2 separate regions of the Homo sapiens genome follow, and region 2 is linked to region 1. The links come from fine-mapping of genetic effects on gene expression. A gene starts in region 1. The other region holds a variant in brackets. All regions are shown on one strand. Distances are between the middles of the regions.

Evidence for each region.
Region 2: its variant is fine-mapped to the expression of BSX in testis (GTEx, PIP 0.96).

Annotation. Positions count from the first base shown.
Region 1 is chr11:122,979,154-122,984,529 of GRCh38, reverse strand. BSX (brain specific homeobox) reads left to right here and starts at 2,696. Exons shown (of 3, transcript NM_001098169.2): 1 at 2,696-3,120; 2 at 5,073-5,269. The coding sequence starts at 2,859. RefSeq lists enhancers at 2,888-3,390, 5,234-5,376.
Region 2 is chr11:122,936,443-122,941,818 of GRCh38, reverse strand. All of the region lies in intron 5 of JHY (junctional cadherin complex regulator), which reads right to left. Among named protein-coding and RNA genes, the nearest start is that of BSX, 43 kb to the left of the region's middle. The variant G/C (reference allele first, on the strand shown) is at 2,469.

The sequences.
Region 1 (5,376 bases):
GCCCTTAGCGCCCCAGGGCCCTGCTCGGGTCCTGGCCGCGCGTGGTGTTCTTTTCAGCCGCGGAGCTTTGTTTCCCAGTGTCGCTGAAAGGAAAGAGAAAGAAAACGCCTTCGGTCCTGGAGGTCCTGCCCCTTCCTGAAGCGATGCCATTTCCTCCCTCCATCTCTCTTTTCTTAGATTCCTCCTGGGGCCCCGGCAGAGGCGGGGCGGCTGCGCCCCGAGTCCCTCTCCGGCGGCAGCGCGGGAGCGGGGCTGGAAAAGAGGGCGCCGGGAGCCGCCCCGCCCCTCATCGCTCCTGGCTTCTCCGCCTGAGAGCAGGGCCTGGGGAGATTGCCTTAGCTTTGGGGGAAAGCAGGACGCTGAGTCCAGGGCTCACGAAACAAGGGAAAGATAAGGACGGAGGAGGCGGTCTACATTGCCCCCCACTCCCTTCCCGATCCCGCAAACACTCTGAGAGGTGTGTAAGTTCTGACGGGGTGGTTGCAGTGCCTTGGCTCAAAGGTAACTGTCACTCGAAGATGTTTTTACTGCCCCTGCTCTCAAAGGGACATTCAATAATCACTTCTGCTTCTGCGACAGAAGTTGGTCCCCTCCCCAGAATGAAGCCGAAATCCCGCCCCCAAGGCTGGGTGCAAATCTGCGCTCTGTGTGAGGCTGGAGTGTAGGGCGCCCTCAGGCACAGGCCACACTCTGGTTGTACACCCGTCCAGCCCTCGATAGCCACTCGGCCTATAGGGTGGAGAGACAGAACGGCTTGATTTCTACTCTGCTGATGCTGTAAGCTCACAATGGAAGCGGGGGTGTACGTGGACGTCTGTGAAGTGTGGACCGACACCCCTGGCCCCTCCTCACCAGTCTCCTCCGTCTGGTGACTGAGGACGATGGGCCAGGGCTTAGCGCTAGGAAAGGACTTTTGGAAAGTCTATTGTCTTGCTCTCCACGGCCACCTGCTTTCAGGTCTTCTTTTCTTTTCTTTTCTTTTCTTTTCTTTTCTTTTCTTTTCTTTCTTTCTTTCCTTTCTTTCTTTTTCTTTTATACACATATTTTATTTCCTTCCTTCCTTCCTCTCTCTCTCCCTTCGTTCCTTCTTCCCTTCCCTTCTCCTTTCTTTCTTTCTTTTTCTTTTTCTTTCTTTCTTTCTGAGATGGGGCCTCACTATATTGCCCAGGGTGGTTTTGAACTTCTGGGCTCAAGCAATCCTCCCGCCTCGGCCTCCCAAAGTGCTAGGATTACAGACGCGAACCACCACGCTGGGCCTCTTCAGTTCTTACTACTATTAGAATTTTTTAAAAATCACGTTTTGGACTTCAGATCAAAGCATTCTGATTTCATTTAGATGCCTACTTGCCAAGATCTTATTTTAAAGTCTCCCCCACATCCCTTCCTCCTTCCTCTCAAGCTCTTCATCTACTTACCATTTACCAGTTCATCCTCATGGAATAGAATGCTCCCACTTCCTGGTGCACTGTAGTTTGGGGCCTAATTGATTCTGGTAATTAATTTGTTCTACCTGCTAGATCAGATGGAAATCCTACCCATGCGCCCCAGGATTAGCACTTGGCTTTCTAACACCTCCTCTAATTATCTAATAGCATGGGTTGTGAGGACTCAGTCTCTATTAAAACACTTTTACTATTAGCAGTAGTGATTGGAATTGTGATGACGACTAGATTTCAACAAATTAGAGCTTAAAAATGGGGAGATGGGAGAGAAGTGGCTTCTTCTAATTTCCCTGAGTTTAACATCAATAATTAGAGCAATTTTCAGAGATGTGAGCTGAAATTACCCCTGCTGTGTTGTAGATGATCACCCTAATTTTAGCAAATTGACTCCAGGGAAATAAATGTGACAGATTAGAAAAAGACAAACAGAAAAAAACAAAAGATTGGGAGGGACGGAAATGAAAGGAAACAGGCTGGGAAAAGGAGTGGGAAACAAAAACCTAGTACAATTAATTCGGGGGGCTAGGGTTGAAAGAGTAACAGCAGAAATAGCAAGCCGCGTGAGTGAAATGAGGAGAAAGCAAAGATTTGAGGCGACATGGAGGATGGCACTAAGAGGTGACTCTGGACATATTTACACAGACCAAATAACTTGACTAATGTAGACATAACCCTCCTCCTGCCCACTGCCTATAACTGAGGTAAAGACTGTTGTGATGACCATCATCATTTTCTTTCTTTACCTTAATAATCCAGTCTTCCCTCAGCCATAAACTTAAGTAGAATCTAGCAATCTGAAGTATCAGATGCCCTTTCTCCTCACTTCCTCCCTTCTTTTTTTGCCACCAAAATTATGGAAACTCTTAAAACCCAGGCCTAAATGCCTGAATAAGTGCTTTATCCATTATTGCTTTGGGGCCCTTTTAGTGCCTTCTCCTCTGTAAAGAGGAGTTTGCCGGACAACAGAGACTTTTTCCTTTTGGCTTTCTTTTAAAAACGACTGGGAACAAAGCAGCCCCTGCAGTGACGGGGCAGAAATTGAGGTCGAGAAACCTGGTAGGAACAAGAACCCTGCGGGCTCTGTTGTTCCCAGGCTCGGCCGGTGGTGTTCAGCACCGCGGACAGCTCCCCGCCCCGCCCCGAGCCTCCCGCACCCTCCCCTCTGCCTCTGGCAGCCTCGTCATTGGCTCTCCCGGCCCCCCTCTCCAAGCTGCCAATTCTCCAACACAGAGACCCAACCTACCCAGGAGCTTGTCTTCTTGCCTCTCCAGCGCCCGGGGTAGCCCAGGCCCGGGAGAGAGCAGCGGAGATTCGAGCCTCGGAGGGTGGTTGCCGGCTTTCGAGCAGGCTTGGAGACTCTGCCTGCGTCCTCCACTTCGTCCCGGCCCTTGTCCTGTGGCAGGTGCTCCGCTCAAGATGAATCTCAACTTCACCTCTCCTCTACACCCGGCGTCTTCTCAGAGGCCCACATCCTTCTTCATCGAGGACATCCTGCTGCACAAGCCCAAGCCGCTGAGAGAGGTGGCCCCAGACCATTTCGCCAGCTCTCTGGCCTCTCGGGTGCCTCTGCTAGACTATGGCTACCCCCTCATGCCCACACCCACCCTCTTGGCTCCTCACGCCCATCACCCTCTGCATAAGGGAGACCACCATCATCCTTATTTCCTCACCACCTCGGGTAAGTAACAGGAACCTCAAGGTATGGGCAGTGAGAGAGCAGGGCTTCTAGCACAGACCCTAAGCCTGTGATGGAGTCAAGGAAAGGCCAGACTGGCTCGGCCTGGCTTGGTGGCCTCTTTCCCTAAGTGACAGTGGAAGGCTGAGGATATTGCTGAGGCCATGCAGAGCTCCCTAGAGGCATGCCAACCCACGGGGATAATTCGTGATTCCTCCGCACTCTTCATAGCGGAGGATAGGTGCCTGGTCAAGAGGCAGCGTATAGGGTTTGACGATACTCTTGGTAGGCAGTGCTCAGTGTCCCTGCTCGTGATCTTCCTGGCCACTTTGGTCCATCTCTCAATCCTGATTCTCCGCCTCTGCCCACTCAGAGGGAGACCCTTGACCATCCCACCCCATGGACACAACTTTTTCTGCACAGAAACTCAAAACACTCTGTCCAGGCCAGATCTCTTTTTTCCAGGCACTGAGCATTTGCAGATACCGCTGGGGGCATAGAAGTGAATGAAGGTTTGGGCTAGCCTGAATAAGACAGAAAGGGTGAGAAAAAAGGGGGGTAGGGGGAGATGCAGCTCTTTAACCCTCCGCATCCTCAACATCTAACATTTAACTCACAATCTTAGTCTGGGCTACCCTCCTCTGCCCCAGCTGCCAGCATTGCTGGAGCCGGGTGCTAAAGTATTTTGATTTCTCTGGTCTGACAAAAAGCAAGGGCTAGCAAAGTCTGTTTGGGACAGGAGGATGTGGGGAAATACTCCGATTTTTTTCTGTCTCCCTCTGAAAGGCCACATCCATGGTTTTTTCTCTGGCGTTTTCAATCTAGCCAGAATAGAATAATTCGTTGAGTCCAGACTCATAGCTCAGAGGCGGCAACAACCATGGTCGGTGGAGGGGCTGGGGGCAAGACAGGAGGCAGTTTGTGCGCGCTGGAATCCAGAACAAAGCTAAAAGTGTTTGTAAATCCAGGTCCGCATCTCTGCACTGGCTTCACCACCCGCCGGTGACAATCTATTCTCAGCTGCTCCGGTGGTCCTCCCATACAGCAGTGGCCAAAGCCCTAAGTACCCGCACTGGTTGTTGTTATGTTTGTTTATTTTCTCTGGGATTGGCCGATGTTGCTTGTGGCAGCTTCTCTCTGCTTGGTGCGTCTCAGACAGAGTCAAGCCTGCGAGGGTCAGGAAAGACAAGTCTCCCCGGACCCGGCCATGGAAAAACCCCTCAAACCCTTCTGCTTCGCTGGGCTTGGAGTGAGAGGGAAAGAATGAGAAAAAGAATGAGGACTATATTAGGTAGCTGGGTCCCTAGCGCGACCCCGAAACGGACGAGGAGACGTGAGAGGCGAGAAATGCTCCTCTGTTTCGGCTCCGGGGCTTCTCCGGATAAGGCAGTTTTGCTCTCCCTTTGGCTGCAGGGGGATAGGGGTGGCTTGGGAAACAGAAAGGTATTTTTCAGTAAGGTTTGGAGGCAAGATTATATCCATGCATCTACCAGCCCCAGAACAGCAATGAGTGTCATCAGGGGTCTAGGAGGATAGGTGGGGGCTGGGGACAGGACTGCTCCTGGGCCATTTGACGTTTGCAAAAAACTTGGCCAGGCGCAACTGAAGACTCCGCGCTGGCCGACCCTACGGAAGTCTCTCCAAGAAGACATTTTTAAACAGCCTCCGGATCTATTTTCCGATTTTCTTTTCTGTTTTATTTACTGTTTGTTGTTTGTATTTCTAGATGACTTTCCAGATAAAGATCTCCAAGCGCTATTCTTGCGGCTTTTTTTTTTTTTCTTCCTCTGCCCTGGATTCCTGAGAGAAAGGCTTGAGGGGCTTTGGGGCGAGCAGACTGACGGAGGCGAGGGGCGGAGGAAGGCACTGGGGGCTAGGGGAGGGGAGGGGAGCGGAGCGGAGATTGCTCTCCGGCGACCCACGCTCTGCCCACTTGGTTGCTCTTCTCTCTGCAGGGATGCCAGTCCCAGCGCTGTTCCCGCACCCGCAGCACGCGGAGCTGCCGGGGAAGCACTGCCGCCGCCGCAAAGCCCGCACGGTTTTCTCTGACTCGCAGCTCTCGGGCTTGGAGAAGAGGTTCGAGATCCAGCGCTACCTGTCCACGCCAGAACGAGTGGAGCTGGCCACGGCCCTCAGCCTGTCCGAGACGCAGGTGGGCGGGAGGAGAGGGAGGCCCTGATCTCTGCTTCGTTCCTCTCTGCCTTCAAGTCTTAATACCTTCGGGACCTTGTGGAGTTCGAGTAGAAATAGACCCCGCTG
Region 2 (5,376 bases), 43 kb after region 1:
TACCAAACAGGAGGCACACACAGTGACCTGCAGTCACACATCCTACAAGCAGCTGGTTACCATGTAATGTTTTACATATTCAAAAAATAAAATAAAATTTAAAATCAATGAGAAGAAAAGAAAATCCTAACACTGAATACAAAGCAAAACAAATGAATTTAACTGTATGTTAAACTGATTACCTCTACCAAGAGAAAAGAATTAATTTATGAAGTAATTTTGAGTCAATGTAGTTTGGTTGTACACCCTTAGAAGAATATAGAGGGAGGAAAAAGAATGGCAAAGAAATCATGAGCTTTACTTAGACTGACTGTTTGGTAGTGGTACTGGCATTGTAATTATAAAACTATTTGTACATATACTGTAGGGAAGGGTAAATGTGTAAACATATTGATGTTTTGGTAAACTAAGGTTTTCACTGTTGGAAAAAGGAGATACAAATATGGAAAAGGAGAAGCATGAGGAAGAACCCAGAGCTGTTGGATTTGAGGTATCTGTGTGACCCCACTAGTATACAGAAATATGTATTGGCATAGGCATAATTATAGAAAGAGGTTCAGGTACAGGTATTTTCTAGCTCTAACTGCTGAGATCTTGAGTCTAGAAGCAATAACATTTCAGTAGCAATGAGAACACATAGCTCTCAAATCTTGGTTTCTAAATTCCATTCCCTACTAAAAAGAATTAGGGTTTTTTGGAGAAACTGATGCTTCCACATGAGTTCAGGGGAAGTCCAAAGGTAAACCTAGAACATATTACTATGCCAGAAAACAAAGAAGTGCTCGAAGACAAAAGATGTTACATCAAAAGGACCCAGGAACTGGAGTGAAGGGGCTCCCACTGCTCAAATCCAAGACAGTGAGAACATATACAGTATAATGATGGTAATAGACTTTAACATGTTTATAGGAAAAGATTTATGAGTCCATAATGATACTAGAGAGAGAGGGAGAGAGAGAGAGAGAGATAAAGAAGGAAGGAAGGAAGGAAGGAAGGAGAAAAAGGAAGAGGAAAAGGTCTTATTTCAACAGCCATGTAATAAATGTATAGGTATTGATAGAATTACAAAATCACCATTTTGCAACCCCAGTGTAATGGATGATTTAGGTAAGCACTGTCAGTGGATGCTAAAACCACTGTACAAAAAGCTGTTGAAAACTAGGATAATTACACTGTCTCGAATATTAATAATTACTTATAAAGGGAAAATGTTCCTTTACAATGGGGAGATCTGGTAGTCGCTACCTTAATCAAAAGGTTTAACTTAGCATCACCAATAATATGATAGCCTGATAGTATGTATCCCCTGGTATAATGTAATAAAAAGTACACCAAATCACCCAAGTAGTATTCTTGCCTGAAATGGTCAACCTAAATATAACTATCCAAAAACAATAAATTTTTTCTAAAAAGGCAATGTTATAGAAAACAATGAAAAGTGAGCATTGGATAATTTGTTCTAGATTTTTTTTTCTTTTTTTGAGACAGAACCTCACTCTGTTGCCCAGGCTGGAGTGCAGTGGCAGGATCTCAGCTCACTGCAACCTCTGCCTCCCAGGCTGAAGAGATTCTCCTGCCTCAGCCTCCCGAGTAGCTGGGACTACAGGAGCCTGCCACCACACCCAGCAAATTTTTGTATTTTTAGTAGAGTGGGAGTTTCACCATGTTGGCCAGGCTGGTCTCGAACTCCTGACCTCAAGTGATCCACCGCCTTGGCCTCCCAAAGTGCTGGGATTACAGGTGTGAGCCACCATGCCCAGTCTGTTCTAGATTTTTTTTTTTTTAATTAAAGGGACAAAAAGTAAATGAAATGTATGAACACTGAATACTGGATCAGGAATTTAAAAAAAAAAAAGCTGTAAAAGGCTTTTTGGAGACAAGTAATACAATTTAAAAATGTACTGATACTACATGATATTGTGTACAATAACGTTAATATTCTTAGCTGTGATAATGGTGTGATTGTTGTATAAGACAATGTCCTTATTCTTAGGGGCTGAATGTTGAAATATTTAGAGATAAAATATTGTGATTCTGAACTTGCTTTCAAATGATTCAGTAAATAGATAGAAAATGTTGCAAAATTTTAGCACTGATGAATCTAGATGAAGGACTACAGGTGTTTATTGTAGATATTTTCCCCCAAGTTTTTACTAGGTGTGAACAATTTCAAAATGAAAAGGTGGTAGAAAAAACGTGGCAGAATAAGCATGCAATTTAACTCTCAAATGCAAATCAAAATTATATATAAAGAGATTTTTAAAAGACATCAACCCACGAAGATAAAGAGAACAAAATGGGGGGAAAAGAGCAAATATTTCGGAAGCAGAGAACAGATGGTTGAATGGTAACTATCTTAGCAGACTCAAAAAAGTGGAATCTAAGTTAGCAGCAGGGAAAGCAGAGAAGCCACAGTTTACACCATAGAATCCTGTAAGGCTCATGAGCTGTAAGTGGGAGTGGCGGTG[G/C]TGAAAGTCTATGTGAGAGTTACTTAAAAAAGATTTGGTTGAAAGTCTGTTTAAGAAGCAGTCAGGGTTGGGTGCGGTGGCTCACGCCTGTAATCCCAGCACTTTGGGAGGCCGAGGTGGGTGGATCACGGGGTCAGGAGATCGAGACCATCCTGGCCAACATGGTGAAACCCTGTCTCTACCAAAAATCCAAAAACTAGCCAGGCGTGGTGATGGGCGTCTGTAGTCCCAGCTGCTCAGGAGGCTGAGGCAGGAGAATCGCTTGAACCCGGTAGGCAGAGGTTGCAGTGAGCTGAGATCGTGCCACTGCACTCCAGCCTGGCAACAGAGTGAGACTCCGTCTCCGGAAAAAAAAAAAAAAAAAGAAGAAGCAGGCGGATCTCCAGATCATCTTCTCCATTTTGTGCACCTAGGCAACTGTCCCTTCCCTCTCTCCGCAGCTCGCTGGAGGTTTTCATTCTGAAGAAGCCAACAAGTCTTCTGCCTGTGAAGCACCAAGCACAGATAATAAATCTGACCACCAAGAGAAAAGACCTAAAACCTACAGGAAGGGCTTCCTATCACATGGCACCCAAAGATCATTCTATAGGCACTCAAAGTCAACAAGCACTGTCACTCAGAGCTTCCAATAAGCTTTCTAGTCCCTCATACTTGATCATGAGAAGATGATCAAGAATTGCTAGACATCTGACACAAGCCCTAAGGTGGAAGGCAGCAAAATAGGAGAAGAGAAACAAACATCACTGACAAAGACCTAGAGGAAAGAGAAGCAAAGCAGGGAATTAAAAACACTTAAAAATTCAGTCACAAGGGCCCTTACACCCTATTTTGCCTTGTTGAAAATCTAAGAAGACGTTGAGAAAAAAGGATGTTGTATCCATGAACAAAAACATGAGGCTATAAAACGAGGAGCATTCAGAAACCAATAACAGAAACAACAACAAAAAAATCCTGTCGGAAATTAACAAACATGATAGCAGTAGAAAGGCTGGAAGCTAGGACTGAGAAACCCTCCCAGACAGTAGAACAAAATTAGAAAGAAATGGAGAAAGAAAGAGAAAACAAAATCATAATAACGGTCCTGGAAAAACGCATCTGAATCACAGGAGTTTCTAGAAAGAGCAAACAGAAAATGGTTGAAAGGAACTACCCATAAAGATGACTCAAGAAATTTTCCCAGAACTGAAGGTCATATGTTTTCAGGTTTAAAGGCCCCAGCTCAATCTATGAAAACAGACCTATACAAAGGCGCAATATTATGAAATTTCACTTCAGTAGAGAAAAAGAAAAGATCCTAAAGCTTCCAGAAAACAAAAAACAAAAAACAACAACAAAAAAAACAGATTATATACAAAGGATCAGGAATAAGGTGGCTTCAGATTTCTCAACAGCAACACTGGATGCAAGAAGGCAATTCTGAGGGACAATGATTTTCCATCTAGAATTCTACAATCCTCTGCCAAGCTACCAATCAGGGGCGAGGGCAGAAGAAAGATAATTTCAGCAAGATCTCAAAACATTTACCTCTCAAGCAATGGAGGATGTTCTCTATCAAAATTAGAGACGAAACTAAGAAAGAGAACGGGGATGGAAAAAACGGGAAGGGTGACGAAGGAGAAGAGTGAAGAGGGTCTCCATGAGGGCATGGAGATTCTTAAGGATAATATGAGCACAACAACAGCGGAACGCAGTCAGAAAACAGGTGTGGCACAGGACACTGGCACGCTGAGAACTGCCCATCACCCTGTCCCCTGTCCTTGTACCACATTTTCAATCTGAAAGAAATGCCGGAAGGGGTGCTCAAACAAAATAAGGAAAATGTGAGATACTGAAAAAGAGAATCCTATCAGAAGAAAGGCAAAGGGAATCCTCAGCCAGGACAGCTGTGAAGCAAGTCTCGAAAGAGAAAGAAAGTAAAGGTGTCTACAAAGTCTGGCTCCAAGAAAGAGAGAAGAATTGAGAAATTGCCCGATGGGGTTGTCCTTATGGAAACTTATACTAAAAGGCTACTCATAAGCGTAGGATCAATTAGCTATATGTACAGAGAGAATTAAGCAAAAGAAGCCCAGGAGGTTGAGGCTGCCAAAAAAATTAAAAAAAAAAAAAAAGAAATGAAAAGAGGGACATGATTATAGATATAATAAAGGTGGAATAATATTAAAGTTATTTAAATACTACAAAAAGCTTTATGACAGTACATTTTAAGACAGCATAAAAGGAAAATTTTTCCTAGAAAAATATAATGTATTAAACTGACTAAAATGAAAATGAAAAGACTGCAAAGTCTTATAATGATTATAGTAAATGCATCAGGAGTTTAAAATCTGCTCACAAACAACAACAAAAAGCCAAACAAAACCCACCAATGGCCCAATAGTTTTAGAGGAAAATTCTATCAAACCTTCAAGTAACAGGTAAGGCCAATTGTATATAAAGTGTCCCAGAGGATGCAAAAAGAGGAAATAGTCCTCAACTCATTTTATAAGGCTGGTATTTTCTTGATAATCCACCCAGTCAAGGCCAGTGGCAGATAGGAAAATTATAAGCCAATTTCACTTCATGTATATGAAAATGTTAAATCTTAAACAAAGTGTTAACACATCAAATCAAGCAACTTATTAAAAATGCAGTATGACAAATTGGGTTAACCCTAGGAATAAAAGGGTTATCAGAAAAATCAGTGCATCATCAGAAAAATCTGTTAACATATTTCATCACACTAAAGGATTAATGGAGAAATGTTTCAATTAATGCAGAAAAAGTATTTGATAAAATCAAATACTCGTTTATGATAGAAGTTATTTGCAAAGAGGAATAGGAGGAAATTTCCCATCTATCATCTATCTATCTACCAAAAACTAAATATTATTTTTAATGGTAAAAGTGTCAGAAACAATCTTTCTAAAAT